7 linked regions of the Homo sapiens genome follow. The protein of the gene in region 1 purifies or fractionates together with the protein of each later gene. This does not show direct contact. Each region holds a gene or a part of one and is shown in the gene's direction. Other genes may lie near its edges. The genes, in order: IGBP1, RPAP1, CAMK2G, TOM1L2, SH3BGRL, PFDN1 and CKMT1B.

Region 1 (4,198 bases):
AAACACTCAAAGTCAACTATTATTATTTGTGGCTAAGAGTATGGGTCATAGAGTCAGAGACCTGGGTTTGAGATCCAGCTTTACTTATAATCTGTTGGACTTTGGGGAAGTTATTTAACCTAACTGAGCCTCAGCTTTCCTCATATGTGAAATCTAAGTAATAATGGTACAGATGGTCCCCGATTTGCGATGGCTTGTCTTAGAATTTTTTAACTTTATATTGGTGCAGAAGCAATACACAGTCAGGGGAACATCAATAAATTACATGAGTTATTCAACACTTTATTATAAAATAGGCCTTGTGTTAGATGATTTTGCCCAACTGTAGGCTAATATAAGTGTTCTGAGCATGTTGAAGGTAAACTAGGCTAAGCTATGATGTTCAATAAGGTGTATTAAATGCGTTTTCAACTTACCATATTTTCCATTTATGATGGATTTATTGAGATGCAGCCCTATTGTAAGTTGAGATGCATGTGTACCTATCTCAGGGTTAATAAGCACAAATGGGAAAAATCACATAAAACAGCACAATATCTGGCATGTGGTGAGTATTCTGTAAATGTCAGCTGCTATTAGGTAGGACACGCCAAAGAGCTTACTCTGGTTGGTGACTGAGATCCACTGAAGAGTTCTGTTTCTTTTTTCTTTATTATTATTATTATTATTATTATTATTATACAGAGTTTCACCCTTGTCACCCAGGCTGGAGTGCAATGGTGTGATCTTGGCTCGCTGCAACCTCCACCTCCTGGGTTCAAGCAATTCTGCCTCAGCCTCTCAAGTAGCTGGGATTACAGGCACCTGCCACCACGCCCGGCTAGTTTTTGTATTTTTAGTAGAGATGGGGTTTTGCCGTGCTGGCCAGGCTGGTCTCGAACTCCTGATCTCAGGTGATCTACCCACCTCGGGCTCCCAAAGTGCTGGGATTACAGGTGTGAGCCGCTGTGCCCTGGCTGTTTCTTTTCAAATAGTAGCATGATCACATTTGCATTTTAGCTAGTACACTGTACCAGCAGTTAGGAAACAGTGAGGGAAAAGATTAGACCCAGTTAAGTCACAAAGGTGACTAGGGTTTACTATTGCAATGGTAGAGGGATGGGGGAGTACATTTAGGAGGGTTGAATCTACAGGAAACCTGGTGATCAATTGGTTGTGGGAGGTGAGATAGAAGGAAGCAGCAAGGAAAGATGTCCATGTTTCTGATTTAGGTGGATGGCTGTGAAATTTATTGAGAAGGGGAAAGAGGAAGAAGAGAAGATCGGGGAAGGGGAGAGTATGAATTTAGTATAGAAACATGTTGAGGTTAAGGTGCCTAGGAGATAAGTAGAGGTGTCTGTTAGTCTGAAGCTCAGAGGAGAGGCTTGGTCTAGAGAGCTGAAGATGATTCATTTATTCAGAAATATTTATTAATTGCTTCCTGTGGGGCTGTTCTAGGTGTTAGAGAACCAGATGAAGTCAGTGCTGCTATGGAGCTTTTATTCTGGTGGTAGAGACAAACAGTAAGCTAGTAAATAATGTAATTTCCGCTGGTAAGGACCATGAGGAATAATAAAGTTAGGGGATAGTGAGTGACTGAGGATATGGGCTAGACTGATACGAAATGGAATTTAACATCCTGTCCTTTGTAAGAAGTTGAGGGCGGCCTGTCAGCAGATAATAGGTAGTTTAAACAGTGAGTTTGGTATCCAAATAATTATACAAAAAAAAAAAAAAAAAAAAACTGCAAGAGAAAGATGAGGGAGTGGTCACATCTGGTTGGAGGGATGAAGAAAAGGTTTCAGAACATAATGGCATTTGACACCAGGCGCGGTGGCTTATGCCTGTAATCCCAACACTTCGGGAGGCTGAGGCAGGTGGATCCCTTGAGGTCAGGAGTTCAAGACCAGCCTGGTCAACATGGCAAAACGCCATCTCTGCAAAAAAAAAAAAAAAAATTATCCGGGGGTGGTGATGCACTCCTGTAATCCCAGGTACTCGGGAGGCTGAGGCAGCAGAATCGCCTGAGCCCGGGAGTCGGAGGCTGCAGTGAGCCGAGACTGCGCCATTGCACTCCAGCCTCAGTAATGGAATGAGACTGTGTCTCAAAAAAAAAGAACATAAATGGTATTTGAGATGAGTCTTAAAGGATGGTTAAAAATAGAAATTAGGCTGAGTGCGGTGGCTCATGCCTGTAATCCCAACTCTTTGGGAGGCCAAGGCGGGAGGATTACTTGAGCCCAGGAGTTCAAGACCAGCCTAGGCAACAAAGTAAGACTCTGTCTGTACCAAAAAATAAAAATAAAAAACTAGCCAGGTATGGTGGCACAGGCCTGTAGTCCCAGCTACTCCAGAGGCTGAGCTGAGCTGGGAGGATCACTTGTTGAGGCTGCAGTGAGCTGTGATCGCACCATTGTATTCCAGCCTAGGTGACAGAGCGAGACCCTGTCTCAAAAAAAAAAAAAAAAAAAAGATTTTTCTGAATGTAAAAGTCATAGTGCTCATTGTAGAAAGTTTGCAAAACAGAAGAATATTTTTTAAATAAAAAATAAGCCTCAATCCTAGCACTCATAGATGATCATTGTTAACTTTCTGATGTGTTTCCTTTCAGTTACATAGTTATTTAAGCTAATAAATTTGGAATGCTGTAACTATAGCTTTTTATCCTGTTTTTTTAACCTAACATTATACCATGAGCATTTCCTCGTGTCTTTTGAAACCATGATATTGAATGTTCCATGCTCTAGTTGTACCATAATTATTTAATCTGTTATTGTCAAATATTTAGACACTGGTTTTTTGCTATTCTGAGTAATGCCATAAACAAACATCTTTAAATGTATCTGTCACTGTTTCCTTAGGGTAGATTTCTAGAGCCGGTGACTGGGTCAAAGTGTTTGAATATTTTGAGGCTCTTGATATGTGGTAAAAGTGTTGCTTTCTACAATAACAGAGTTTCAGAATATGTTCCACTGCATTTGTCTTGGGTGTTAATACTTAGAAAATCCAATTGGGTGGCCGGGTGCGGTGGCTCACTTTGGGAGCCTGAGGCAGGTGGATCACCTGAGGTCAGGAGTTCGAGACCAGCCTGGCCAACATGGCGAAACCCCATCTCTACTAAAAATACAAAAATTAGCCAGGCATGGTGGCGGGTGCCTGTAATCTCAGGTACTTGGGAGGCTGAGGCAGGAGAATTGCTGGAACCCAGGAGGTGGAGGTTGCAGTGAGCCGAGATCGCACCATTGCACTCCAGCCTGGGCTGGCAACAGCGAGACTCCGTCTCAAAAAAAAAAAAAAAAAGAAAAGAAAAGAAAAAAGAAAATCCAATTGGGCAAACAGAAAGTATCTATTGTTTTGATTTGCATTTCTTTGGCCTGCCGCTTTGAACGTTTTTCTTAAATGCCTGACAGATATCAACACTTAACTTTATACTAATGTCTCCCACATTCGTATTACTAGCCCAGACCCCTCCTGACCTTCAGACCCATACTTGCAACACCCTTCCTTCATGGGTGTTTCACAGACATGTCATACCTTGAACCCTTGGCTTTTTAACCCCCAAATGTGCCTCCTCACCCATCTCAGTAAGTGTACCACCATTGACTTAGGTTTTTAAACCAGAAACCTAGGATTTAGCTTCAATTCCTCACTTTTTCTGAATTTTCACATCCAGTCCATCAGCAAAGGCCTTTCCATTCCAGCTACAAAAGGTATCTTCTATCCTTCTATTTCTCTCCATCTCCACTATCATACCTCAGTCTAGGCTACCAGCATTTCTCAGCTGAGATAGACAAATCAGCTCCAAGGCCTTGTGTGATCTGCTGCCTGCCTCTTTTCAGTCTCACCATGTATCATTCTCCCCTCGTTCACTAGACTTCAGCCACAATGACCGTCTTTCAGTTCTTTGAATAGACCCAGCTCTGTCCCTCTATAGAATGTCTGTGTGTGCAGTTCTCTTTGCATGGAATGCTCGTCATATGGCTAATTCTTCATCCTCTAGGTCTCAGCTTAAATGTCACTCCTCAGGCCTTTCCAGATCAGTCTCTTTAAGTAGTTAACAACTATTATTCTCTCTTTGCTTCATGTTTGTTTCCTTCTTGGCACTTGTGTGCAGTCATTTCATGTGTCTTTCTGAGTTTTGTCTCTCTCCCCTACTACAGTATATACTCTATGAGGGCACAAGCCATTTCTTGTTCACTATGTTATGCCTGCCATAGAG
Region 2 (4,198 bases), on another chromosome or scaffold:
GTGATTCTGCTGAGGCCAGCCTCTCGGCCACCCCTTCCTTAGTCACTTGGACACAGGTGTCTGGGCTCCAGCCTCTTGTTGAGCCGTGTCTAAGGCAGACCTTGAAGTTGCTGTCCAGACCTGAGATGTGGAGAGCCGTGGGCCCAGTGCCCGTTGCCTGCCTGTTGTTCCTGGGAGCCTACTACCAGGCCTGGAGCCAGCAAGTGAGTGCCTCCTGCCGGCTGTCCACCAGGCCCCCGCACCCTGCCTTCAGCTACATTCCACCCGTTGCTCCCTCTCTGTGTCCATCTCTCCACTCCTACTTCCCCATTTACTATCTTCCCTTTTAATTCCTACCCTTCCTCCTCTTTCTACCTCCATATCCCCGTGGAGCTTCCCAGGAGCCATGTTGGTGGGGACCAGAGAGCCCACGCAGCAGCTCAGCCTTCCTGTAGCCTGTGTGCTCCCTCTTTATGCCCCCTACACATCGGGGCCTTCTCTCCCTTCAGAAGGCTCAGCCTGCAGAAGCCTCCAAATGTGCTCTTTTGGGCTGTTGGGATGGTGGCATTGGCCTGGGTACACAGGGTCTAGGAGAATGAATGGCTGGGCCATCAGCTCAGTGAATTCCTTGGTCCACCAGCCAAGCTCATGCCCGGAGGATTGGCTCCAGGACATGCAGCGCCTGTCAGAGGAGCTGCTGCTGCCACTGCTGAGTCAGCCCACACTGGGCAGCCTGTGGGATTCCCTTAGGTATGTACTGTGTTTGGTAGCTGGGGGAAGCAGGGGAGGAGGCAATTTCTTTCCTTGTGGGATTCCTGGGTCCAGCTCCCAGGTCCATCCCAGGGTGCAGGCCCTCGGCCCGAGGGAAACCCGAGTCCCTAGCAGGCAGCAGTGGGGTGGGCTCTGAGGAGTGTGAGCAGCACTGACCTCCACAGCCAGGCCCCCCGTTAGTCTTAGGTACAGACCCAGAAGCTCTTTCCAGCTTGGCACACGCCAGGCCAGAGTCCCCCTCAGACTCTCCACTTCACCTACAGGCACTGCTCCCTTCTCTGCAACCCGCTGTCCTGTGTGCCAGCCCTTGAAGCTCCCCCCAGCCTCGTGTCACTGGGCTGCTCGGGAGGCTGCCCCCGTCTCAGTCTGGCTGGCTCAGCCTCACCCTTCCCATTCCTCACTGCCCTCCTCTCTCTTCTTAATACCCTGGCCCAGATCCACAAGGGGCTGTGTGGCCAGGTAAGTGTGGGGTGCCTGATTAGGGGCCAGGCAAGGGGCCAAGATGGCAGGAATCAGAAAGAAAGTGGGAGGGTGGGATGGGCGCGGTGGCTCACGCCTGTAATCCCAGCAGTTTGGGAGGCCGAGGTGGGCAGATCACCTGAGGTCGGGAGTTCGAGACCAGCCTGGCCAACATGGAGAAACCCCATCTCTACTAAAAATACAAAATTAGCCAGGCATGATGGCACATGCCTGTAATCCCAGCTACTCGGGAGGCTGAGGCAGGAGAATCACTTGAACCCGGGAGGCGGAGGCTGCGGTGAGCTGAGATCACACCATTGCACTGCAGCCTGGGCAACAAGAGCGAAACTCCATCTCAAAAAAAACCAAAAAGAAAGTGGGAGGGTGTCCCATGGGGAAGGGAGGCCTTCTGCTGGCACTCATTTCCCTGAGTCTGGAGAGGGGCAGCCACCTGGGGAGCCCTAGAAGGCATGAGAGTCAATTTCTAGATCTGAACAAAATTGCTTTTCCTCAGCTGGCTGCCATATTGGCTGCCCCGGGACTCCAGAATTACTTCCTCCAGTGTGTGGCTCCTGGGGCTGCCCCACACCTCACACCTTTCTCTGCATGGGCCCTGCGCCATGAGTACCACCTGCAGTACCTGGCACTCGCTCTGGCCCAGAAAGCGGTAGGTCCCCCTGTCTGACAGGTTCTCCTGTCATCCCATTATCTCCTTCCTGTTTCTGTGGAACCCAGCCTGCTTCTGCCAGGCCATGCAGCTCCCACTTTCCTCCAGACATGCCCTGGACCTCTGCCCTTCAGCCTCACTTTTATCCTCTTCCTCACTTCTCTCTGCCACGTCCCCTTCTCCTGTACTAGGTAGTTCCCTGCTTTTCTGTCTGCAGGCAGCGCTGCAGCCACTGCCAGCCACCCATGCTGCCCTCTATCATGGTATGGCCTTGGCCCTGCTGAGCCGGCTGCTGCCCGGAAGTGAGTACCTCACCCATGAGCTGCTGCTGAGCTGTGTATTCCGGCTGGAGTTCCTCCCGTAAGTGCTTGGTTGGTGGCATCAACTCAGCCCTTTTGGACGCTGCTGCAGTTGTTAACAGAGCAGCCCTGAATTTGGAGCCAGGAGACCTAAATTCTCTTTCTTCCACCGACGACACTTAACTCTTCCGAGCTTCCATTACCTCATTAGTGAAGTGAGGATCAGGCTAACCACACCCAAGAATGATTGTGAGACTTCAGTGTGACTGCATGGCTAAAAAAATGGTATCTAAATCAGTTACACACATGTAATAGCCATCCGCTACTGAGTGTTTACTCTGTGTTTGATACTCCCTTATGTATTTATCTACATTTTAAGTATTTTACTTGGACCATGAGATAGATACTATTATTATCCTTATTTTACTCTGAGGAAACTGAGGCCCAGAGAAGTTATGTAAACTCATGCCTAGGCAGCTGGCTGTAGTGTGCATCCTCTTAACTGCTACACAGCACTGCGCGGGAAGTAGTTAAGGGAGCAGAGAGGCACAGGTCTGGACCTAGGAGCCTCCAGGAAGTTCCAAAGAGCTGGCACAGCCTCCAAGTGCTGTGGTTCCAGCCCTCATTTTTGGCTTTTGGGTCCCATTACAGGGAAAGAACATCAGGGGGTCCAGAGGCAGCCGACTTCTCTGACCAGCTGTCGTTAGGAAGCAGCAGGGTCCCTCGGTGTGGGCAAGGGACTCTGCTGGCTCAGGCCTGCCAGGACCTCCCCAGCATCCGCAACTGCTACCTGACTCATTGCTCGCCAGCCCGAGCCAGTCTGCTGGCCTCCCAGGCTCTGCACCGAGGGGAGCTACAGCGAGTCCCAACCCTGCTACTGCCCATGCCTACGGAGCCGCTGCTGCCCACCGACTGGCCCTTCCTGCCACTGATTCGCCTCTACCACCGGGCTTCAGACACCCCCTCGGGACTCTCTCCCACAGACACCATGGGCACAGCCATGCGGGTCCTGCAGTGGGTGCTAGTTTTGGAGAGCTGGCGCCCCCAGGCTCTCTGGGCTGTGCCCCCTGCTGCCCGCCTGGCACGGCTCATGTGTGTGTTCCTGGTGGACAGTGAGCTGTTCCGGGAGTCCCCAGTACAGCATCTGGTGGCAGCCCTCCTCGCCCAGCTCTGTCAGCCTCAAGTCTTGCCAAACCTCAACCTGGACTGCCGACTCCCTGGCCTGACGTCTTTCCCTGACCTCTATGCCAACTTCCTGGATCATTTTGAGGCTGTCTCTTTTGGGGACCACCTCTTTGGGGCCCTGGTCCTCCTGCCCCTGCAGCGTCGGTTCAGTGTCACCTTGCGCCTTGCCCTCTTTGGGGAACACGTGGGAGCCTTGCGAGCTCTGAGCCTGCCTCTGACCCAGGTACTTTCTCAGCCCAGCAGGACCTGCAAGGGTACCCTGCACTGGGCCTCGGGGGCAGTCCTGAGCCTTGAGGAGCTTTGGAAGACCTCAGCTTCCTCATCTTACCTCTTGGGGGCTTTGAGGGGATTAAGAGAATCAATGAAAAGGGCTTAACATGGGCTGGGTGTGGTGGCTCACGCCTGTAATTCCATCACTCTGGGAAGCTGAGGTGGGTGGATCACTTAAGGTCAGGAGTTTGAGACCAGCCTGGGCAACATAGTGAAACCCCATTTCTACTAAAAATACAAAACTTAGCTGGGCGTGGTTGCGGGTGCCTGTAGTCCCAGCTACTCAGGAGGCTGAGGCAGGAGAATCGCTTGAACCCGGGAAGCGGAGGCTACAGTGAGCCGAGATCGCGCCACTGCACCCCAGCCCAGTGACAGAGCAAGACCCTGTCTCAAAAAAGAAAAAAGGAAAGGGTTTAACCTGGTGTCTGGCATATAGTGGGTATTCATTACTATTAATAAGGCATAGCTCCTTGCTTATCAGTGCTACAATCTAGATAAGAAGAGATTTACTGAAAACCTACATAGTTGTGAATTATTCAGATGCTAGGTGGTATCAGGATTCAGAGAA
Region 3 (4,253 bases), on another chromosome or scaffold:
TCACTAACTTCTCCGCTGGCTCCCACCCTTATCACATCTCAGCTACATATATAAACTCTCTGTTATCTAAGTAATTCTATTAGCCAGAAGCAATTCCAGAGTTTATATTAGTACTAGGAAGGTGTCATGTAGCCCCTGTCTAACATTTGAATTGAACTAAAATGTGAATCTCAATAAAAGCAACACAGTTTTCACAGCATATGCTGATAATGGCAATCCAACTTCTTTTGCCTTTTCCCCAGAGAATCCTGGGAATATCCTGAGCTTGGTGCTTTGATGATTCTATTTCAGCTTTGGTGCCTTAAAAAAAATTACAAATCAATTTTGAATGGTTTAAGTTCATGATTTTGTTCTGCAGCCCTAGCTAGGGGTGAGCCAAGCCTTATGAAATCTAAACTCAGCCTAACAGAATAGAAAATCTATAGGCTTTAGTTAAGAGTCACATGGTCCTGAGTTCAGGTGTGTGATTTGAGCAAATTATTCCTTGAGCCTATTTCCTCATCTTATAATGAAGAAAATATTATCCACCAAGAAATACAGCTCGGGCATGTAAAACCCCAGCACAATGCCTGATTAAAAGCGCAGCAGGTACTGTCACTGTTACCCATCTTTCTGTTCCTTTTGGATAAAGGAGACTAATGTAATGTGGCATCCTGGCCTCTGGAGGGCGTTCAGGGGTTCGGGGGTGGGGGGGGGCGGTACTTGGAGATTCTGGGAGTGGTTGCTTGGGAGATGGTAAGACTTGGAAGTGCAGGCTGGGAGGAAAATGCAGGTGCCCAGGCCTGATGTCCTCTTACCTACCCCACCCTGCCCTGCAGTCCTGTCCAAGAACAGCAAGCCTATCCATACCACCATCCTAAACCCACACGTCCACGTGATTGGGGAGGACGCAGCGTGCATCGCCTACATCCGCCTCACCCAGTACATCGACGGGCAGGGTCGGCCTCGCACCAGCCAGTCAGAAGAGACCCGGGTCTGGCACCGTCGGGATGGCAAGTGGCTCAATGTCCACTATCACTGCTCAGGGGCCCCTGCCGCACCGCTGCAGTGAGCTCAGCCACAGGTGCACCTGGTTGACGGGGGAGAGGGGCTGGAAGGGCCTGGGATAGGTGGGGTCAGAGGAAGAAGAGAAGGCTGGGAGGTGGTCCTGGGAGAGGAGGTGTGGGCCGTCCCAGAGGACTGGCAAAGCCTGGCAGAATGGTTGCAATAAGTTATGCTTGGAAATCAGACAGACTAGGGTCTGGCTCCGTGACTCCAAATTGGATGACCTCAGACAGGTTACTTCCCCTCCCTAAACTGTTTCCTTAGCTGTCAAAGAAAGGCAGAGAGTGGTGCCTACCTCATTTAATCATTGTGAGGATTAAGTAAGATACTATAAGTAAAGCACTTAGTTAGTGCTTAGCAAATGGGAGGCAGTTTTGTATTTAAGCATTAGCTTCACCCACTTTCCCCACCTTCTCAGGCCGACTTGGCCATGTGTTTAGCGTGCTAAAGTCGCTGGAACTCATCTGTGTGCTCATTGTCCTCTGTTCTGTTACCACATTCTGTCCTGTTTGACAGGGGCTTTAGGAGATTCCAGCCGGAGGTCCAACCTTCGCAGCCAGTGGCTCTGGAGGGCCTGAGTGACAGCGGCAGTCCTGTTTGTTTGAGGTTTAAAACAATTCAATTACAAAAGCGGCAGCAGCCAATGCACGCCCCTGCATGCAGCCCTCCCGCCCGCCCTTCGTGTCTGTCTCTGCTGTACCGAGGTGTTTTTTACATTTAAGAAAAAAAAAAAAGAAAAAAAGATTGTTTAAAAAAAAAAGGAATCCATACCATGATGCGTTTTAAAACCACCGACAGCCCTTGGGTTGGCAAGAAGGCAGGAGTATGTATGAGGTCCATCCTGGCATGAGCAGTGGCTCACCCACCGGCCTTGAAGAGGTGAGCTTGGCCTCTCTGGTCCCCATGGACTTAGGGGGACCAGGCAAGAACTCTGACAGAGCTTTGGGGGCCGTGATGTGATTGCAGCTCCTGAGGTGGCCTGCTTACCCCAGGTCTAGGAATGAACTTCTTTGGAACTTGCATAGGCGCCTAGAATGGGGCTGATGAGAACATCGTGACCATCAGACCTACTTGGGAGAGAACGCAGAGCTCCCAGCCTGCTGTGGAGGCAGCTGAGAAGTGGTGGCCTCAGGACTGAGAGCCCGGACGTTGCTGTACTGTCTTGTTTAGTGTAGAAGGGAAGAGAATTGGTGCTGCAGAAGTGTACCCGCCATGAAGCCGATGAGAAACCTCGTGTTAGTCTGACATGCACTCACTCATCCATTTCTATAGGATGCACAATGCATGTGGGCCCTAATATTGAGGCCTTATCCCTGCAGCTAGGAGGGGGAGGGGTTGTTGCTGCTTTGCTTCGTGTTTTCTTCTAACCTGGCAAGGAGAGAGCCAGGCCCTGGTCAGGGCTCCCGTGCCGCCTTTGGCGGTTCTGTTTCTGTGCTGATCTGGACCATCTTTGTCTTGCCTTTTCACGGTAGTGGTCCCCATGCTGACCCTCATCTGGGCCTGGGCCCTCTGCCAAGTGCCCCTGTGGGATGGGAGGAGTGAGGCAGTGGGAGAAGAGGTGGTGGTCGTTTCTATGCATTCAGGCTGCCTTTGGGGCTGCCTCCCTTCTTATTCTTCCTTGCTGCACGTCCATCTCTTTTCCTGTCTTTGAGATTGACCTGACTGCTCTGGCAAGAAGAAGAGGTGTCCTTACAGAGGCCTCTTTACTGACCAACTGAAGTATAGACTTACTGCTGGACAATCTGCATGGGCATCACCCCTCCCCGCATGTAACCCAAAAGAGGTGTCCAGAGCCAAGGCTTCTACCTTCATTGTCCCTCTCTGTGCTCAAGGAGTTCCATTCCAGGAGGAAGAGATCTATACCCTAAGCAGATAGCAAAGAAGATAATGGAGGAGCAATTGGTCATGGCCTTGGTTTCCCTCAAAACAACGCTGCAGATTTATCTGCACAAACATCTCCACTTTTGGGGGAAAGGTGGGTAGATTCCAGTTCCCTGGACTACCTTCAGGAGGCACGAGAGCTGGGAGAAGAGGCAAAGCTACAGGTTTACTTGGGAGCCAGCTGAGAAGAGAGCAGACTCACAGGTGCTGGTGCTTGGATTTAGCCAGGCTCCTCCGAGCACCTCATGCATGTCCCAGCCCCTGGGCCCTAGCCCTTTCCTGCCCTGCAGTCTGCAGTGCCAGCACGCAAATCCCTTCACCACAGGGTTTCGTTTTGCTGGCTTGAAGACAAATGGTCTTAGAATTCATTGAGACCCATAGCTTCATATGGCTGCTCCAGCCCCACTTCTTAGCATTCTTACTCCTCTTCTGGGGCTAATGTCAGCATCTATAGACAATAGACTATTAAAAAATCACCTTTTAAACAAGAAACGGAAGGCATTTGATGCAGAATTTTTGCATGACAACATAGAAATAATTTAAAAATAGTGTTTGTTCTGAATGTTGGTAGACCCTTCATAGCTTTGTTACAATGAAACCTTGAACTGAAAATATTTAATAAAATAACCTTTAAACAGTCCATTGTGTTACTGCTGTTGGAGGTTTACGGCCAGAGGCGTAGATTTTAGCAGCCTGGCTTACCAGGTTGGAGAGAGTACCTCCTCCTACTCCCTTTGGGTACTTTTGAGAATAAAACTTCCTCATGCCTGTAATCCCAGTACTTTGGGAGGCCGACGCGGGCGAATCACGAGGTCAGGAGTTCGAGACCAGCCTGGCTAATATGGTGAAACCCCGTCTCTACTAAAAAATACAAAAAATTTAGCTGGGCATAGTGGCGGGCGCCTGTAATCCCAGCTGCTCGGAAGGCTGAGGCAGGAGAATCGCTTGAACCTGGGAGGGGGAGGTTGCAGTGAGCCGAGGTCGCGCCACTGCACTCCAGCCCAGGCGACAGAGTGAGACTCCGTCTCAAAAAAAAAAAAAAAAAAAAAAAAAAAAAAAAAAAACTTCTCATAAACAGCCTCCAAACAGCGCTCGGTGCTGCGCAGGCGACGCGGGGCGGGGAGGGAGGGTGAGTGCCCTGGGAGCCGGCTGAGGGCCTCGCCCCGCCCCTGGTCCCGCCTCCGGTTAGGCCGCTCCGCCTCTTACTCCTCCCCTCCCCCGAGTGGGCCGGCCCGGCTCCCCCTCCGCGGGGCTGAGTGGATGAGCCCAGGCCTGAGCCCGCCCCTGCTCCGAAGTCGTGGTCCCCGACGCTCGGCCGGCAGTGCCAT
Region 4 (4,198 bases), on another chromosome or scaffold:
GGAGGACAAGGACCTGGCATCAGTTAGGGTGAGTGGGACAGATGCTTGCATTTGCGTTACCCTTTGGGGACCTAAAGGGTGATTTTGTTATGGCTGTCACAGCCTTGGGCCTTGTCTCATCTTTTGACTACGGAAGTACACACCAGTGGCTCTGTGCCCACCTGACAGGTGAATAAACCTCTGCAGTAAGTGTGGGGGCATCCCCAGGACCCCCCAGTGCATCAGTTGGAGAACAGGAGCAGATATAAGGGGACCTGACTCCCAGCCCGAGGCCCCTTTGTCTTGCCATGTGATTCCAGTTTCTCCATGGTAAATGGGCTTGGGTTTAACCTATTAAACCTATTTAAGCCCTGCTAGAAAGCATAACAGGAGCTAACTAATATGAGTATTTTCACCCAAGAGTCTCCCAGTCCAAGCATTACACATAATTCAGAGGCAAAGCCTGGGGCTGGTGGCTGGAAGTGCTATCCTGGTTAGAGTGTCTTTGATGATACTCATTGTTCATTGAAGATGAGTGTGGGAAAGGTACCCCAGGATTAAAATTGTTTCAGATGTATTAATATTCCTGTTCTCCTTGTAGACCACTGTTGAAAAAACACACAAGTCGTTTTTAAAACCACAGTGGACACTCACTGCCTTACCCAGATCATTCCTCCTGGGGATCTCTTTCTTGTCACCAGCTGCTGACCCCAGCAAGTTGGGAGACAAATCTGGAGCAGCATAACTCACTAAAGCTGGGTGTCTAAGGCTCCAGCTGGAAAAAGTCTCTTAGCTACCGCTGCCCATGGCATTTGGAGTTTTTAAATACGATACAGAACATAATCTATTCTGCCCCACCCCAACACACACCTCATAACTACTCTTCCGTTCCCCACCTGACAGGAGGATGACCTGGCCTTCGACAGTTGCTCAAAGCCAACTCCCCCTGCACTGCCTGACTGGGTGCAGAGGACACTCACTCCACCCTCCTAGCAGTCCTTCGATGACTGGCCCAGGCCTCTCTGTAGCAGCTACTGGCGAGCATTTCCCCAGGCCGTAGCCAGGGCCATGCGTCCGCCTTCCTCCTGCTGGTGCCCACCCTATGTGTGCCCCACCCCCTTTCCCCAGAGGCTGAGTTGGGAGCATGTTAGGAACACTAGCTAGTTGCTCCTGAACACAGCCCTATGAAATAGGGAGTCTGCAGCTCCAAGGTAAGGTGGTTAAGCCACCCTCCCTCCAGGGCCCAGGTGTGTGAGGAGAGGCTGGGGACACTCACAATGACCTCCATGATGGGCCAGCCACCACCCCTTTCTGATGCCCACTCTGGGTGCTGGGTGAGAAGCTGATCCTCTCAGGGGGAGCCCCACACAGAGGAAGCCGTGGCAGAGTTGATATATGGTTTCACTCCCTAGCCCCCAGGTGGGACTGGCTGGTCTTGGTCCCAGGGATTCTTCATAGGACTAGTGAGCACCCCACAGGGCCATATCACAGGCATCCTCTCTCCTTACTTCTGCTTTCCCTTCCCCTGTTAGGTTCGAACGATACAGGTCTGGCCGATCCGTTCAAAATGCCAGTAATGGAGTAAGTATTCCTTCAGAATCCTGTCATCTCCTGAGGCCAGACCTACCCCTCCACGTTTTGGAGGCTGGAGAGACCTCCAGTTTTTCTAACTGGTTTTGAAATATTTGGGAAATTGAAGAGGCAAGCTCTGGTTGATGGGATACTAGGGCAGAGCTAGCAGGCACCCCTGATGGGAAGGTGGCAAGCAAGCCCTAAGTTTGCATCTCCCAGGACAGTCACTGTTGACTCAGCAACCCCTCCTTCTAGTGGGGACGGGGAGGAGGCAGTGAGCAGGGCTCACTGACATCCAGGCCCACCATGGACCTGGAAGGCAGGTGGGGGAAGTGGCCTTGCTTCTGTACTAGAGCAGCGCTGATACTTTTCTTCTTGGAACCCTGCATAGTTGCCTTGCCAGCTTCTACCTCAGAGCCTGACTCCAGGGTTCTGGGGCTTATGGCCAATCTCATGTTCTGACAGGTACTGAATGAAGTAACCGAAGACAACTTAATAGACCTGGGGCCAGGGTCTCCAGCCGTGGTGAGCCCAATGGTGGGGAACACAGCGCCCCCATCTTCCCTCTCCTCCCAGCTTGCAGGCTTAGGTGAGTGTCTCACAGGGACAAAAGGGCCTACCTACTTCCTACCACTGGCCTCCCTTGCAGGCCACCTCTCTTTCTTTCTTGGAAGACCCAAAGAGAGTCTTTTGGGAAATACATGTGAAAGTGTATTCCTGAGTCCTAGCCAGTTGTACCACCTTACTTTCAATTCATACCTTTTTTCCCCCTAAATTTGAAGTTTAAAATCTATGTTGGAAAGCAGGGATGGGGGAAATTCCAATGAATTAAAGAAAGGTCACGGCCGTGCGCAGTGGCTCACGCCCGTAATCCCAGCACTATGGGAGGCCGAGGTGGGTGGATCACCTGAGGTCAGGAGTTTGAGACCAGCCTGACCAACATGGCGAAACCCAGTCTCTACTAAAAATACAAAAATTAGCTGCGCATGGTGGGCACCTGCAATCCCAACTACTCGGGAGGCTGCGGCAGGAGAATCACTTGAGCCTGGGAGGTGGAGGTTGCAGTGAGCCGATATCGCATCATTGCACTCCAGCCTGGGCGACAGAGCAAGACACTGTCTCAAAAAAAAAAAAAAAAAAAAGAAAGGTCACCTGCCATGTTTTATATGGAACATTCCCTATGATTGAAGTAATTTCCTTTTCAATATTAACTAGGTCAAGGCCGGGCGCGTAATCCCAGCATTTTGGGAGGCTGAGGTGGGTGGATCACTTGAGGTCAGGAGTTTGAGACCAGCCTGGCCAAAATGGTGAAACCCCGTCTGTACTAAAAATACAAAAAAATTAGCCAGACTTGGTGGCGGGCACCTGTAGTCCCAGCTACTCAGGAGGCTGAAGCAGGAGAATTGCTTGAACCCGGGAAGCAGAGGTTGCAGTGAGCCGAGATCGCGCCATTGCACTCCAGCCTGGGGGACGACTCCATCTCAAAAAAATAAATAAATATTAACTAGGTCAAGGAGGGCAGATAGGTTTCAGCTCTTTGGCTTCTTGGAACACAGGTTTGAGGAGGATGCTGAAGCCACATCAGGGCTTAGAAAAGTCTGTGATTGATTGATTGTCAATATCTACAGAGGGCTTGGAAACAGGAGGTAGCAGCACTGAAATATTTGCTCTCCTTGAACTTTACCATCAGCCTAAAGCAGTCCATTGTCTGGAACTTAAAAGAAACTCACCACTTTCCACAGTTCATTTAGTTTGTACATTCAAAGTGTGTATATGACTCTAGCACATTGGTTATACTGGATGATACCAATTTATAACAAATGAAATTATAACATTGAAATAATAAGCATGGCCCTCAAAATTCTTTCCTCTGTCTTGCTTTTCTGTTTTCCTTTTTAAAAAATATTTCTCGTCTACTTTCCTTTCATTTGACTTGAGTTAAACTTCTAGTGGCTATCAGTTGCTGTAATTGTAGCTTCTCAATATTTCGTATATTTGTAGCCACTATTTCTGTATCAGAACAGATGTCTCTGCCTTCAGTCAGTCCAGCATATATGACTGCCAGATTTAATACTTAAAATTCAAAGTGTAACACCGGTAATCCCAAGACTTTGGGAGGCTGCGGCAGGTGGATCACCTGAAGTCAGGAGTTCAAGACCAGCCTAACCAACATGGCAAAACCCCATCTCTACTAAAAATACAAAAATCAGCTGGGCATGGTGGTGTGTGCCTGTAATCCCAACTACTAGGGGGGTTGAGGCAGGAGGATCGCTTGAACCCGGGAGGCGGAGGTTGCAGTGAGCCGAGATTGTGCCACTGCACTGCAGCCTGAGCAACAGAGCAAGATGCCATCTCAAAAAAGAAAAAAAAAAAAAAGCCGGGTGCGGTGGCTAACGCCTGTAATCCCAGCACTTTGGGAGGCCGAGGCGGGTGGATCACAAGGTCAGGAGATCGAGACCATCCTGGCTAGCACGGTGAAACCCTGTCTCTACTAAAAATACAAAAAATTAGCCAGGCGTGGTGGTGGGCGGCTGTAGTCCCAGCTACTTGGGAGACTGAGGCAGGAGAATGGCGTGAACCCGGGAGGCGGAGCTTGCAGTGAGCCGACATCGCTCTACTACACTCCAGCCTGGGTGACAGAGCGAGA
Region 5 (4,880 bases), about 11 Mb from region 1:
TGGAGGAGTGATAGCATTAGGTGAAATACCTAATGTAAACAACGAGTTGATGGGTGCAGCAAACCAACATGGCACATGTATACCTATGTAACAAACCTGCACGTTGTGCACATGTACCCTAGAATTTAAAGTATAATTAAAAAAAAATAAGAAGGTGGCCTCTGGAGTTCCTAACTCTGGAATGTACTAACCATATGATTTTAGGAAAACTATTTTTCTGAGTTTCAGTTTCTTCATCTGTAAAATTAATGTAATAGTACCCACCTCTTGAGGTTGTTTTAAGGACAACATGTAAAGAGATTAATTTGGAATTAGTATTTAAGACAGATTGGAGAAGGGAAAACCTGTGGGTAGGGAACAGTTAACAAAGCTATTGTAAGCACTGAGCCTAGGCAAAGACAGTAAACCACTAGACTGGAGACAGTGGAAAAACAGCAAAGGAAAAGAAGTAGGACAAGCGACTGACTCCTCTCCACTCTCATTCATCTTGCAAATTCCTTTTTTTCTGTTCATTTAACATAATCTGGGAACCTAAAACTACACTTTGAAGTATATGGTCTGTCTCTGGACATTATTAACTGTTTGCTCATTTCCTTAGAGCTACAAATAACCATCTGATCTCTCTCTTCACCATTTCAACATCTGCAATATGTTCTCCCAAATCCCTTACTTCAGTCAGTTAAAAAGCAAAACAAAACAAAAATCATCCATCTTTTTACACAATATTTTCAATCTTTTCTTTGTAATTTATTCCTTCATTCTTAAACTTGCCAATCAGGCCTCCTGCAAATTCCCACGGAAGCAGGGTTCCCTAATTTAACAAAACACAAAATTCAAAAAGAAAACCAATCCTGCCATTTCTGGGCTTAAGGAAACCTGAAACTTTCCTTCAAAACTCTGCAGCATTGCTCAGTACTTTAGTGCCTAATTCCTACAACGAGCTAAGATCAGAAAAATCACTACGTAATAGGAATCTTAAAATGCGCAAGGCTTTGAGAACATGGGTTTTCAACATACAGCTTGCTCTTTCAGGATCTGTCTTCTTATTTGCATATATTTCTGAGCAGGAAGTTATGCGCAGTACTTTTAGTCTCCGCGTGAAAAGGTCCTTCATGCTAATCTAATTCAATTCAGTTCTCCTTTTTCTTTCTTCTTCTCCTCGCCCTCTTCTCAGGGAAGGAATCGTCAAAAATCAATGTTTCAACAGATCTCGCGGTGCTATTCGAGATTCCCTATTAAAAAAAAATAGAATTGATGCAAACAGCCTGTTCCTTCCGGGGTTTTGGGCTGGAACTGCAGCGCTTAGAGAGCTCGGTGGAAGCTGCTAAAGGCGGAGGCGGGGCTCTGGCGAGTTCTCCTTCCACCTTCCCCCACCCTTCTCTGCCAACCGCTGTTTCAGCCCCTAGCTGGATTCCAGCCATTGCTGCAGCTGCTCCACAGCCCTTTTCAGGACCCAAACAACCGCAGCCGCTGTTCCCAGGATGGTGATCCGTGTATATATTGCATCTTCCTCTGGCTCTACAGCGGTAAGGAGAGTGGGGAGTCCACCTTTGTTGTTTTCCTACACACCAGTCCTCTGCTGCCCCAGAACCATTAAAATGCAGAAGTTCCTCTGGCAGCTTCTCCTTTGGAAGACTCATGCATCCCCGATCCCACCCTTCTTCTTCCCTTTTTTCCCTTTGTTGCATCGATTTCATTTTTTTTTTTTTCCACATAGAGTTCAGCTTTGTTTGCTTCGTGACGTTGGGGGGCACATTTCTGCTTTGAAGGAAAACGAAAGCTACCAAGTTTTGGGAGATGGGAGATGGTGCTATACGGTCTTTAGGGTTACGTGAAGTCAAGTAAAATCGCACACTGGTGAGTTTCAAGAGTGAGACATTTGATGAATACGCCCTAAGTACTGAGACAAGGAGGAGTGCACTTCTGTAAAGGATGGGGGTACACATGCTGTAACTGGTGGGGATTGAGTGGAGGCCTACCGAGGCATTGTAATTATTCTGGGTGAGTGAGACCCTGGTAATAGAGTTATTTTGAGAGTGTGTAGAAGAAAGTGGTTAACTTGAGCTTGAAGGCCTGTTAGAACTAGACAAATTGGGAGGGGAAGTTGGTAACAATGACGTAAATTTTTTTTTAACTTAATATGACACGAGATTCAGTTTTCCCCCCATATTGTCCCTTATTTTGACTGTTTCTATTCTTTCAAAATATTTTACTTTTAAATTTCTCTCACTGCTTCAAGTATATTGAGAACTGGATAGGGAGCTCAGTGGCTTCTTGTGTAGTGGCAGCCTGAGTTGCTGCTGCTTCAAATGATAGGACTTTCTCTTTCATGGATTCACTTACTCTTAATTTAGAATAACAAATTTTCAGCAGCTGTCGGGAGAATATGATAAACTGGGGTGCAAGATGAGTGTATATCCATGATAAATGAAAGTGCTTCTGCTTTTTACAACTCAAGAGAAAGGCAGACAGTGGCAAGAACAGATGTGTGGGTTCAGATTGTAGGGTATAGGAACCCCTTCCCTCTTCTTGAGCTTTAGAGCAGCAGCTAATCCAGGTTGTTGTGTGTTTTTATTTTTTGGCTTGTTTATTTACACCTGAGAGGATGTGGAATGGAAGTGGAGGTTATGTTAAATCACAAGAACCTTGATATTTGAACTTTGTCTTCTCTGGCCACCATGTGTGGATATGTTTATGCAATTTTGGAATATCAGAAAATTTAATCTTACATTTTTTGAATAAGTTTAGGTTAAAAAAAAGAACACCTTTTATATTTCCTTTGGACCTAATTTTATGAGCCTCTTGCTTTATTATTTTCCATACATGTTGTCTAATATTTCAAAGTAAAATTTGAGTTGCTCAGAGTCTCAACTCAATCCAATAATTGTAAAGTCCAACTTAATGCCTTTAGTTAAACCCCTAATGAGACTGAACAGATCAGGCAGTTAGTTTTGCTTTGGGAGTCATACAGTTTCAATACTGTTATTTATTCTTTGCTTTCTCCTTCCTCTACCCCTTCTTTAAAAGTAGATTCAACAAGAAACTGCTTTCAGAATTTCTATTCAAGTAAGAATAACTGCACCTCTCTTTGTTAAGTCTTAAGTTTCCAAGAGCCTTAGAAATGGCTGCTGTCTTCTATTATTTCCTTTATTGGACTCCTTTTTTTTTTTATTTAGATTTCAACTTTTATTTTAGATTCAGAGGGTACATGTGCAGATTTGATGCATGGGTATACTGTGCAAGGTTTGGGGTACCATTGAACCTCTCACCCTGGTAGTGGGCGTAGTACCCAATAGGTAATTTTACAACCTTTGCCTTCCTCCCTCCCTCCTCTGTAGTCTTCAGTGTCTATTCTTCCCATCTTTGTTGGACTTTATTGTTGAAGACCATGCAAATGGCAGATGTTTATGGTATTTGTATTTTATTTCAATTTTTTGTCATGAGTAGTTAGAAATTTATTAGAAATTTATCTACTGTAGTAATTATAGTTCAATGAACCTGTTATCAAAATTCTACTTCATAATGCCAAAATAAATCCTTGCTTTATTATACTATTACAACACTTTTAAATAATACCAAAACAGTGTAAAGTGAGTACTTCTTTGTAACATGAATGGAGTGGTGATTATTTACTTCAGAAAGGCACTTTTCAGTTTGCTGTACTAAAGTTTTCCTTTAAGATTGATGCCCTGTTTGTTTTAATACATAAGTTAGAAAGTTTTGAGCAAATATCCTGATGGAGTCCTACAATTGCACATAGTGAGATACTTCAATAAGTGACTAAGTTTAGTTGTCTGAAGAACAGTTAAAAGCTTCTTTGCTTTGGATTGGTGGTAGCTGACTGTTTCTTAATCTTCCTACTGGTTGTCATTAAAAAAAAAAACAACAGATGTTATACTGGTTATACTGGGCAGAGTGGGGGATCTGGATCTGTGATAATTGGCAAGACAATGTTAACTTATTATGGTGGCGGGCGCCTGCAGTCCCAGCCACTCGGGAGGCTGAGGCAGGAGAATGGCGTGAACCCAAGAGGCGGAGCTTGCGGTGAGCAGAGATCGCACCACTGCAATCCAGCCTGGGCAACAGAGCGAGACTTTCTCTCAAAAACAAAACAAAACAAAAAAAGTGGCCTAATAGTGAAGAGTAGCACTTGCTTCTTGAAAGTTTAGAAATGAAAACAAGTATGTTGGTCTTTGCAATGGATTTCATTTTTTATTTTTATTGATATATCATAATTGTGCATATTTATGGGGGACATATGATCTTTTGATACATGCACACAATGTGTGATGATCAAATTAGGGTAATTAGGATATCCGTTACCGCAAACATTTATCATTTATTTGTGGTGGGAACATTCCAAACATTCTAGCTGTTTTTTCTAGCTATACAGTAAATTATATTGGTAACTATAGCCACCCTATTGTGCAATTGAACAGTGGATCTTATTCCTTCTATCTAACTGTATTTGTGTACTCATTAACCAACCTCTCTTAATCCTTCTTTCCCCCTACCCTTCTCAGCCTCTGGTAACCACCATCCATTCTACCCAATATCTTCATGGGATCGACTTTTTTAGCTCCCACATGGGTGAGAACGTGTGGTATGTCTTTTGTCTTTCTGTGTTATGTCTTAGTTCACTTAAAATAATGTCCTCCAGGCTCATCCATGTTGTCACAAATAACAGAATATCATTTTTATGGCTGAATAATATTTTATTTTGTGTGTGTATATATATGTGTGTATATATAAGTGTGTGTATATATATGTGTGTGTGTGTGTGTGTATATATATATATATATATATATATATCACATTTCCTTTATTCATTCACCGTTGATGGACACTTAGCCACATATCATAGTTATTTTGAATAGTTC
Region 6 (4,198 bases), on another chromosome or scaffold:
AACTCTGTTAGTGCAAAGAGAAGAAAAATCTTGCTTAATTAATTGCAATATTAAATTGAAATATATTTTAGCTTCCTTAGACAGTCCTGAAAGAGATTTGCATAACTGGGGTCTTCCCTTGGTTCCAGTGGAGGGGAAATATTTCAGTTCACTTACTTGGGGCTATAAAAGTTTGTTCTTCCTTTCCCTGAAGCAAGAATTGTGAACATAAAGTCATAAAACAGTTTCAGTGTTAATTTTTAAAACTTCTCCATATTTCCACCCTCATCAGTGGTAAATAATGTGCCTGATGTAAAATGGAAAAAGTTGAAAATTTCCACTTGTACATTTTGAGCTTTTCAGAGGTACTATATACACTCTGGAAATAATAATAAAAGATACTAAGGCTTATACAGTGCTTTTTGTTTGAGGAACTCATATAAACACTAATGCATTGATCCTAACACAGTGCTTGATTGTGACTTTAAAAGGTCATGAGTTACTGCTGTTACAAAAAAAAAAAAAAAATGGAGGGGCGCTCCACTTTACAAATATAGTTTAAAAAATATCTAGATAAAAATTGAAACAGATAACTGAAAAAACAAAACTTATAGGGTATTTGTTTGTATGTTGACTTTTCTCTTAGCGTATGATATATTTTTATTCCTTTATTATTTTTTCTTTTACATATGAATCTACTTGAAGCCTGATTTTCTTTTCTTTTTTTTTTTTTTTTTAATGTTTTTAAGACAGGATCTTGCTCTGTTACCCAAGCTGGAGTGCAGTAGCACAATCATGGCTCACTACAGCTTTGATATCTCAGTCTCAATTGATCCTCCCACCTCAGCCTCCCTAGTAGCTGGGACTACAGGCGTGTGCCACTGTGCCTGACTAATATTTTAAATTTATTTTTTGTAGAGATGGGTCTCATCATGTTGCCTGGGCTAGTCTTGAACTCCCAGGCTCAAGCAGTCCTCCTGCCTCGGCCTCTCAGAGTGCTGGGATTACAGGTGTGAGCCACTGTGCCCAACTCCCGCAACCCCCCCGCTTTTTTTTTTAATGAGACAGGGTCTTGCTATGTTGCCCAGACTAGACTCAGACACCTGGGCTCAAACAATCCTCCCACCTCAGCCTCCTGAGTATCTGGGACTGTAGGCCCACACCACTGTTCCCTGCCTGATTCCTATATTAAATAAGAAAGCAGAATCTACTTTTAAGCCTTTATTCCTTCTCAGCCAAGAAGGTTTAAACTTCTGGTGGTTTCCTGAGCTTGACGTATTATGTTAATATGCATTTGTCCTTTTAATTTGCTCAGTTTAATATTTGTAGTATGTAGCTATTGATTTCGATGAATTCAATAGTCATGTGGCTTAATTTTCAACTTTCTTGTGTTTCATAGGTTTATTCTTCAGTCCAAGGAAGCAATTCACAGTCAGCTGTTAGAGAAGCAGAAAATAGCAGAAGAAAAAATTAAAGAACTAGAAGTAAGTTTTTATTGGCAATAGGAGTTAACTTTTGGGAGAAAGTAGTAATCTTATTGTGTCATATTAAATGAAAATGTATGCCTGCCTGCCAAAGTAATGTCATATTATTTTTATTTTCTATAATTACGTTGGAGCCGTGAAGCTGTCATATTCATATTCATAGCGCATATAAGACCAAAACAAAAAAAAAAGAATAGTCTCTTCTTTGGAACTGCAGAGAATTTTGATGAGATGGTTTTAACCTGAATGTATTTTGTTCATTGCCCTTGAATGTGTTTATTCTTTAAAAAAAACAAAACCATAAACAAAATGTAATGTATATTTAAACAACACTTGTGTAGTGGATTGTGGTGGATGGGCAGGAGAGTGGGTAATAATGATAAATTTTAGAGGATCTTGGTATAGGGTCTTTTTTACACATTGTAATTTCTTTAACCTAAATTAGGTTCTATATAAGGACAAAGTAGCAAGCTATAACCAATTAACTATCTGAAGGATGGTGCTCCAATGAGAACAATTTTTTCTTTTTAGCTAGGGAAAAAGATGATAGGTAACAGTAAGCAAATCTTTGGAAATATTACTTTATTATTTTTATTATTATAATTTATTTATACATTAAGACCTTTAGTGAGATATTCTTCTTGGGCTTTGGTGAAAGGCCCATCCTGTGTATAGTAAAAGTTAGACTGGACAAAAAGCTGGTTATTTCTTAGGGACCAAGATTTCCCAACATGTGGGTGGATACATTGACTTCATAGGTCATTTCATCTAATTTCTGTAAGTACTATTTGAGGCAGAGGATCAGAATCTAACTCAGCCCTCTGCTGAATTTGGGAGCTACAACTTGTAGCCTCCTGAGGATTTCTTAGGGGCACTGAATTGGCCTGGCCTGGGAGTATGCAGTATCTTAGGTTACTTAGGCTTATTTTTAACTACTGATAGTTGAAACAAACTTGATAATAGATTTGCAGCTTAGAAAAGTGTATTGTAAAAACAAGACAAAAAAGCAAAAAAACCAAGTAAAGAAAAAACAGCCTGTGATAACCAGATTGTTGTTGTGTCCTATTTTAACATTTTAATCAGCTCAACTGTTCTAAGAGGTTCAGTTTGATATCTGTGTTTTCACTCATAAGAAACAAAAGTATCTTTAAAAACCCAAACAGAATCATTTCATGTAGATAAAACAAAATGCATTTTTGCAACTGTAGGTAAATATATTTAAAATTATCCTAATGAATAATAAGTAGCAAGGTAATATGTATATAATTCTCTTTATGAAAACAAAAAACAAACATTTGTGTATGAATATTGAAGATGATATGTAAGGATATATATTAAATTGTTAATACTGTTTACCCTAAAGAAATTAGATGGGACGTAGGGATAAATGATTTTTTCTTTTTCTTTCTTTCTTTTCTTTTCTTTTCTTTTTTTGTTTTTTTTTTTTTTTTTTGAGACGGAGTTTCGCTCTTGTTGCCCAGGCTGAAGTGCAATGGTGTGATCTCGGCTCACTGCTACCTCCGCCTCCTGGCTTCAAGCGATTCTCCTGTCTCAGCTTCCCAAGTAGCTGGGATTACAGGCATGCGCCACCACGCCCTGCTAATTTTGTGTTTTTAGTAGAGATGGGATTTCTCCTTGTTGGTCAGGCTGGTCTCGAACTCCCGACCTCAGATGATCTGCCTGCCTCGGCCTCCCAAGTGCTGGGAATCATAGGCCACTGCGCCTGGCCTTGATTTTTTTCTTACAATCTCTGTAATAATAAATTATAACAAGTATACATTAACTTTTTTTGTTGTTAACTTTCATGATTAAAAAATTAGCAGAGTGGGCACAGTGGCAAATGCTTGTAGTCCCAGCTACGGGAGGCTGAAGCGGGAGGATTGCCTGAGGCATTCCAGCCTGCGCAACATAACAAGACCTTGTCTCTTTAGGGAAAAAAAAAAACACAAAAACCCCAATTATCAAGGTGAAATTGCCACAGGTGATGATTTTATCAATACCGTACTGCTGAGTTCTGGTGAATATTAAGAAATTTACTTTCTGCAAGTTTCCTTTTGTTGAGTGTCTCAAATACTGGTAGAATGTTTTATCTTTTAGGAAGTTCTTTTTTCTTTTTTAATTTTTCATTTTACATGTTACTTACATTATAAAAGCAATAGAAGTACACCATAAATAAAATATAAAACAAATGATTAAACAATGAAAATATTACTTTGTTTTTCCACCCTCGGTACATCCAAATGTCACCTCTACGGTTTCTGTATCATTCCAAACTTCTATATTTATATCAAGACATTCATACATGCATATATATACACAACCTTTTTTTAAAATAGGAATTATGCTATATATACTGTTTTCCATCATTTGACAGTTTATCTTGCTACTTTAGTAATATAACTCCAGTTTATATACAATTTCTTTTTTTGATTCCCATCATCATGGGCTCCTTACCATGAGCCTTATTTCAGCATTTAATATGTTCTCCAGTACTTCCCTAATCTGTGCTTTTAACAGTATCACCCAGTGTATACTCCCCTCTCTTCTCTGAAACAATCCTATACTTTTCCACTGCTACAACTTTATGGTTTTATTACTTCAGCACACCCCCACATGTGCACTTATGCACATATACACTGTTAATTGTGATGTTCAAATTTTGTGTGTATCTTACTGAATTATCATCTGCTTATTCATTTAGTTACTGAGAGATGTGATGAATCTTCCTCTATGAC
Region 7 (3,578 bases), on another chromosome or scaffold:
CCTCATAAATGCTTTTTTTCCCTCTATCTCTCCCAATTCTTGCCTTGCCTCTTGATCACTGTCCCTCTCCGGCCCTCAGGCACAACAATGAGAAGAGCTTCCTGATCTGGGTGAATGAGGAGGATCATACACGGGTGATCTCCATGGAGAAGGGTGGTAACATGAAGAGAGTGTTTGAAAGATTCTGCCGAGGCCTCAAAGAGGTTAGAGAAGACTATGTAGGGGAGCTAGGTGGGAGGACATAAGGAAAACCAAAGAGTAGCATAAATAGATTATGTAATTTACCAACCAACCCAGGACATGTCTTATAGTAAAAAGGACTATCTAGGACTCACTCCAGGACTAAAGGTGTAAACCAGCTGGGACCATACTGGGAAAACCAGGACATGTGGTCACACTAAGATTAGGAAAAGAAAGAGTGTCAGGAATCTTAGGAAGTGAACAAGGCTGTTGACAGAGAGTGCAAAGAAGGAATAAATGAGATGGCACGTCAGTGCCTGGGATGTGTGCAGTGGGATGGTGAGGTGTGCAGATAAGGAAAACATTCGAGCTTAGATTGATGTTGGCGGGGAGAGGTTGCTGTGTTCATGACTCTAATATAACCACCCAGTTCTGAGACAAGGTAGGCCTTGACTCTGGATTCTATCATTCTTGTTAAAGTATCGGGTCTAGGCTTTAAGTTGAGAGTTCGGAGAGAGACTGGGGAAGGTGGAGGATAGAATGGTTCAAGTTCTAGAATATGTGGCTCTAGATGAGAGGTTGAACTGAATCATCAATCCTACATGGATTGGGTCTCCGTATTCAAGTCTACATTAGAAATCCCCATAAACTCAATTCAATTCTTACTGTATGTTCTCAAACATACAGTTCTATTTTAGGTTTGCAAAGAAAAAGAGCTCCTCTTTTAGATTCTGAGAAGTTTCTACTATTTTTGGCAAGTAATAGATAACATATTCTGACTATGAGTGGGTAGGGAAGTACCTTTAAATTATATGCCTCAGTTTCCTCATCTGTAAAATTGGGATAATGAGATTTTCTACATTTTAGGTTGTTGTGGGGATTAAGTGAAATACAGGTAAAGTACTTGGTCCACAGTAAGTGCTTAATAAGTGTTAAAGTGTTAGCTGCAATATTATTCTGGATGGAAGAGTTTCCCCCCATGTTCAGCATGTAAGATATCCCCTATGGCATGGTTCCTTCTGAACTATAAAGAGGATCCCTTTACTCATGTTGGGTTGTGGTCTTTGTGACCATCATTCTGCTAGATCCCTTGTCTCTTGAACTCTAATAGTCATCTTCATGACTACATGGTTAAGTGAAGCCAAACGCCTTCCCCCCGCCCCCTATTCCTATGAATCTGGCTTTTCTGCTCTGTTTTCATCTTTCTCTGCATTCACACAGGTGCTCCGTTCACAGCTAACAGAATGTTATCTTACCTCTTCCTGGCAAAGCTTACACCTTCATCTTCTGTCTGAAGGGACCCTTCTAAGCTCTAGGCTCATTAGCAAAGCAAAGATAATCGATGCATGCAGACCTCATTGAATAATCAGTCATCTCTCAGTTCAGTTTACCACCTCTGTTCATTTCCCTAGATCATCCTTAATACACCACTCCTTCGAGTTTTCTTCTTCCACATAAGATATTTTTTCACAATCTCATTATTATGCACATCATAATTTTGCATCATGCATGCATGAAAACAATAACAAACCTTTTTCATTTAAAAAAAGACCAATGTCATTCATTCACAGCCAAGTTTCTGTTCTAGACATATTTCTAGTGTTCTTGTGGGTCTAGCTAAGGGAGGGTCCAGGGTTAATGAAATATCCCTGATTTTTCGTTAACAAAACCTTTGTGGACTCAGGTGGAGAGACTTATCCAAGAACGTGGCTGGGAGTTCATGTGGAATGAGCGTTTGGGATACATCTTGACCTGTCCATCTAACCTGGGCACTGGACTTCGGGCAGGAGTGCACATCAAACTGCCCCTGCTAAGCAAAGTAAAGGAGTTGTGGGGTTACAGAGGGGTGTGAGTAAGGAAGGGTGGGTTGTGGATGGGGAGGGAGTGGACCCTTTGGAAAGGAGCCAAACATGTTGTGGCTAAAGGGTCAGAGGACAGGCCAGGCACAGTGGCTCATGCCTCTAATCCCAACACTTGGGAGGCCAAGGCAGGCAGATTACTTGAGCCCAGGAGTTCAAGACCAGCCTGGGCAACCTGGTGAAACCCCATCTCTACTACAAATACAAAAGTTAGCTGGGTGTAGTGGAGGCTGAGGTGAGAGGATCACTTAAGCCTGGGAAGTCGAGGCTTCAGTGAGCTGTGATCACTCCAGCCTGGGTGACAGAGAGAGACCCTGTCTAAAAAAAATTAAAAAAGAAAAAAGAAAAAAGGAAAAAAAAAGTTCAGGAGACAGAGCTCTGAGCAGGTTCAGGGCTCTTTCAGGTAGGACTAGTCTCTGCCTCTATTGACCCTGCTCCCAATCCCTATCTCCTCTCTAGGATAGCCGCTTCCCAAAGATCCTGGAGAACCTAAGACTCCAAAAACGTGGTACTGGAGGAGTGGACACTGCTGCTACAGGCGGTGTCTTTGATATTTCTAATTTGGACCGACTAGGCAAATCAGAGGTGAGATCCTAAGGGATTAGGACAAGGAGAGGTATAGGTCTGCGAGGGCCGAAATATGGCAGTGAGTGAGCCTCCGGGATGTAAGATAATCTGAAATGAAATTCAGGTTGAGTGGGGAGGCAATTGGAAATGAGCAGGCAAGTCAGTCAGTGATAAAGAAAAACTCAGACTGTAGGAAGCAGATCAAAGATTAGTGTCCCTTAGGTGGAGCTGGTGCAACTGGTCATCGATGGAGTAAACTATTTGATTGATTGTGAACGGCGTCTGGAGAGAGGCCAGGATATCCGCATCCCCACACCTGTCATCCACACCAAGCATTAACTCCCCATCGCCAGCTGATGACTCAAGATTCCCAGGAGTTCTGCTCATTCTAATGATGGCCCATTCTACTTGCTCTGGACCTGCCCCCGCATCCCCTGCCTCCATCCTAGTAAAGACTCCTTGCTATGCTGCAGCTGTCTGTGTTACTTCTAATGGTGGGGTGAGGAGGGAGCAGCCTTCAGGAAATGAAAAGAGGCAGTGGGATTATTTATGATGGAAAGAGACTCCAGATATGGCAACCCAGGAACACTGATTCTCAGGTGGGTGGAAAGCATTAACATTTTACCCATATTCCTCATCAGCTTCTGAAAATAATCAGGATGCACTTCTGTTTGCACTTTATTCATTATGACTTAAGATTTCTCTCCCCACAATCTCCTTCTACTGTAGAGACAGGCTCATAGCAGGTGGCCAAGGAAGCTGATAGTCAATACCAGGGACCAGGAAGGTCGTGACCAGTCCTGGAGGCCCCAGGCTGTACTTCGACCTATAATAGACAGGGAATGGGAGTAATATCACAACTCAGCTCTCCAGGAGCATTGATACTTGGAAATTAGCGCTCTGCCTGTAGACTCCTTCACTCCAGGGATCTCCCTGGGTGCACTCTAAGAGCCAGACAGCACCAAATTAGGG

What was found.
Region 2: the proteins of IGBP1 (region 1) and RPAP1 fractionate together in Homo sapiens (co-fractionation; one large-scale study listed by BioGRID). This does not show direct contact.
Region 3: the proteins of IGBP1 (region 1) and CAMK2G purify together in Homo sapiens (affinity purification with mass spectrometry; one large-scale study listed by BioGRID and IntAct). This does not show direct contact.
Region 4: the proteins of IGBP1 (region 1) and TOM1L2 fractionate together in Homo sapiens (co-fractionation; one large-scale study listed by BioGRID). This does not show direct contact.
Region 5: the proteins of IGBP1 (region 1) and SH3BGRL fractionate together in Homo sapiens (co-fractionation; one large-scale study listed by BioGRID). This does not show direct contact.
Region 6: the proteins of IGBP1 (region 1) and PFDN1 fractionate together in Homo sapiens (co-fractionation; one large-scale study listed by BioGRID). This does not show direct contact.
Region 7: the proteins of IGBP1 (region 1) and CKMT1B fractionate together in Homo sapiens (co-fractionation; one large-scale study listed by BioGRID). This does not show direct contact.

What each region holds. Positions count from the first base shown.
Region 1 is NC_000023.11:70,136,050-70,140,247, forward strand, and holds part of IGBP1 (immunoglobulin-binding protein 1), read left to right. Parts: intron 1-4,198. UniProt on the Homo sapiens protein: Associated to surface IgM-receptor; may be involved in signal transduction.
Region 2 is NC_000015.10:41,519,776-41,523,973, reverse strand, and holds part of RPAP1 (RNA polymerase II-associated protein 1), read left to right. Parts: intron 1-1; coding exon 2-203; intron 204-619; coding exon 620-729; intron 730-1,013; coding exon 1,014-1,209; intron 1,210-1,723; coding exon 1,724-1,876; intron 1,877-2,093; coding exon 2,094-2,236; intron 2,237-2,826; coding exon 2,827-3,583; intron 3,584-4,198. UniProt on the Homo sapiens protein: Forms an interface between the RNA polymerase II enzyme and chaperone/scaffolding protein, suggesting that it is required to connect RNA polymerase II to regulators of protein complex formation.
Region 3 is NC_000010.11:73,811,813-73,816,065, reverse strand, and holds the end of CAMK2G (calcium/calmodulin-dependent protein kinase type II subunit gamma), read left to right. Parts: exon of another isoform or gene 1-199; intron 200-818; coding exon 819-1,051; 3' UTR 1,052-1,063; intron 1,064-1,560; coding exon of another isoform or gene 1,561-1,622; 3' UTR 1,623-3,565; downstream 3,566-4,253.
Region 4 is NC_000017.11:17,864,238-17,868,435, reverse strand, and holds part of TOM1L2 (TOM1-like protein 2), read left to right. Parts: intron 1-1,511; coding exon 1,512-1,560; intron 1,561-2,016; coding exon 2,017-2,140; intron 2,141-4,198. UniProt on the Homo sapiens protein: Acts as a MYO6/Myosin VI adapter protein that targets myosin VI to endocytic structures. May also play a role in recruiting clathrin to endosomes. May regulate growth factor-induced mitogenic signaling.
Region 5 is NC_000023.11:81,200,720-81,205,599, forward strand, and holds the start of SH3BGRL (adapter SH3BGRL), read left to right. Parts: upstream 1-1,382; 5' UTR 1,383-1,481; coding exon 1,482-1,526; intron 1,527-1,717; exon of another isoform or gene 1,718-1,857; intron 1,858-1,872; exon of another isoform or gene 1,873-2,001; intron 2,002-4,880. UniProt on the Homo sapiens protein: Appears to function as an adapter protein that bridges proteins together or proteins with mRNAs. May function as a ubiquitin ligase-substrate adapter.
Region 6 is NC_000005.10:140,278,714-140,282,911, reverse strand, and holds part of PFDN1 (prefoldin subunit 1), read left to right. Parts: intron 1-1,378; coding exon 1,379-1,463; intron 1,464-4,198. UniProt on the Homo sapiens protein: Binds specifically to cytosolic chaperonin (c-CPN) and transfers target proteins to it. Binds to nascent polypeptide chain and promotes folding in an environment in which there are many competing pathways for nonnative proteins.
Region 7 is NC_000015.10:43,596,329-43,599,906, forward strand, and holds the end of CKMT1B (creatine kinase U-type, mitochondrial precursor), read left to right. Parts: intron 1-79; coding exon 80-203; intron 204-1,047; exon of another isoform or gene 1,048-1,864; coding exon 1,865-1,999; intron 2,000-2,498; coding exon 2,499-2,624; intron 2,625-2,828; coding exon 2,829-2,945; 3' UTR 2,946-3,078; downstream 3,079-3,578. Other genes in the region: STRC (stereocilin precursor), read right to left, coding at 3,344-3,432. UniProt on the Homo sapiens protein: Reversibly catalyzes the transfer of phosphate between ATP and various phosphogens (e.g. creatine phosphate).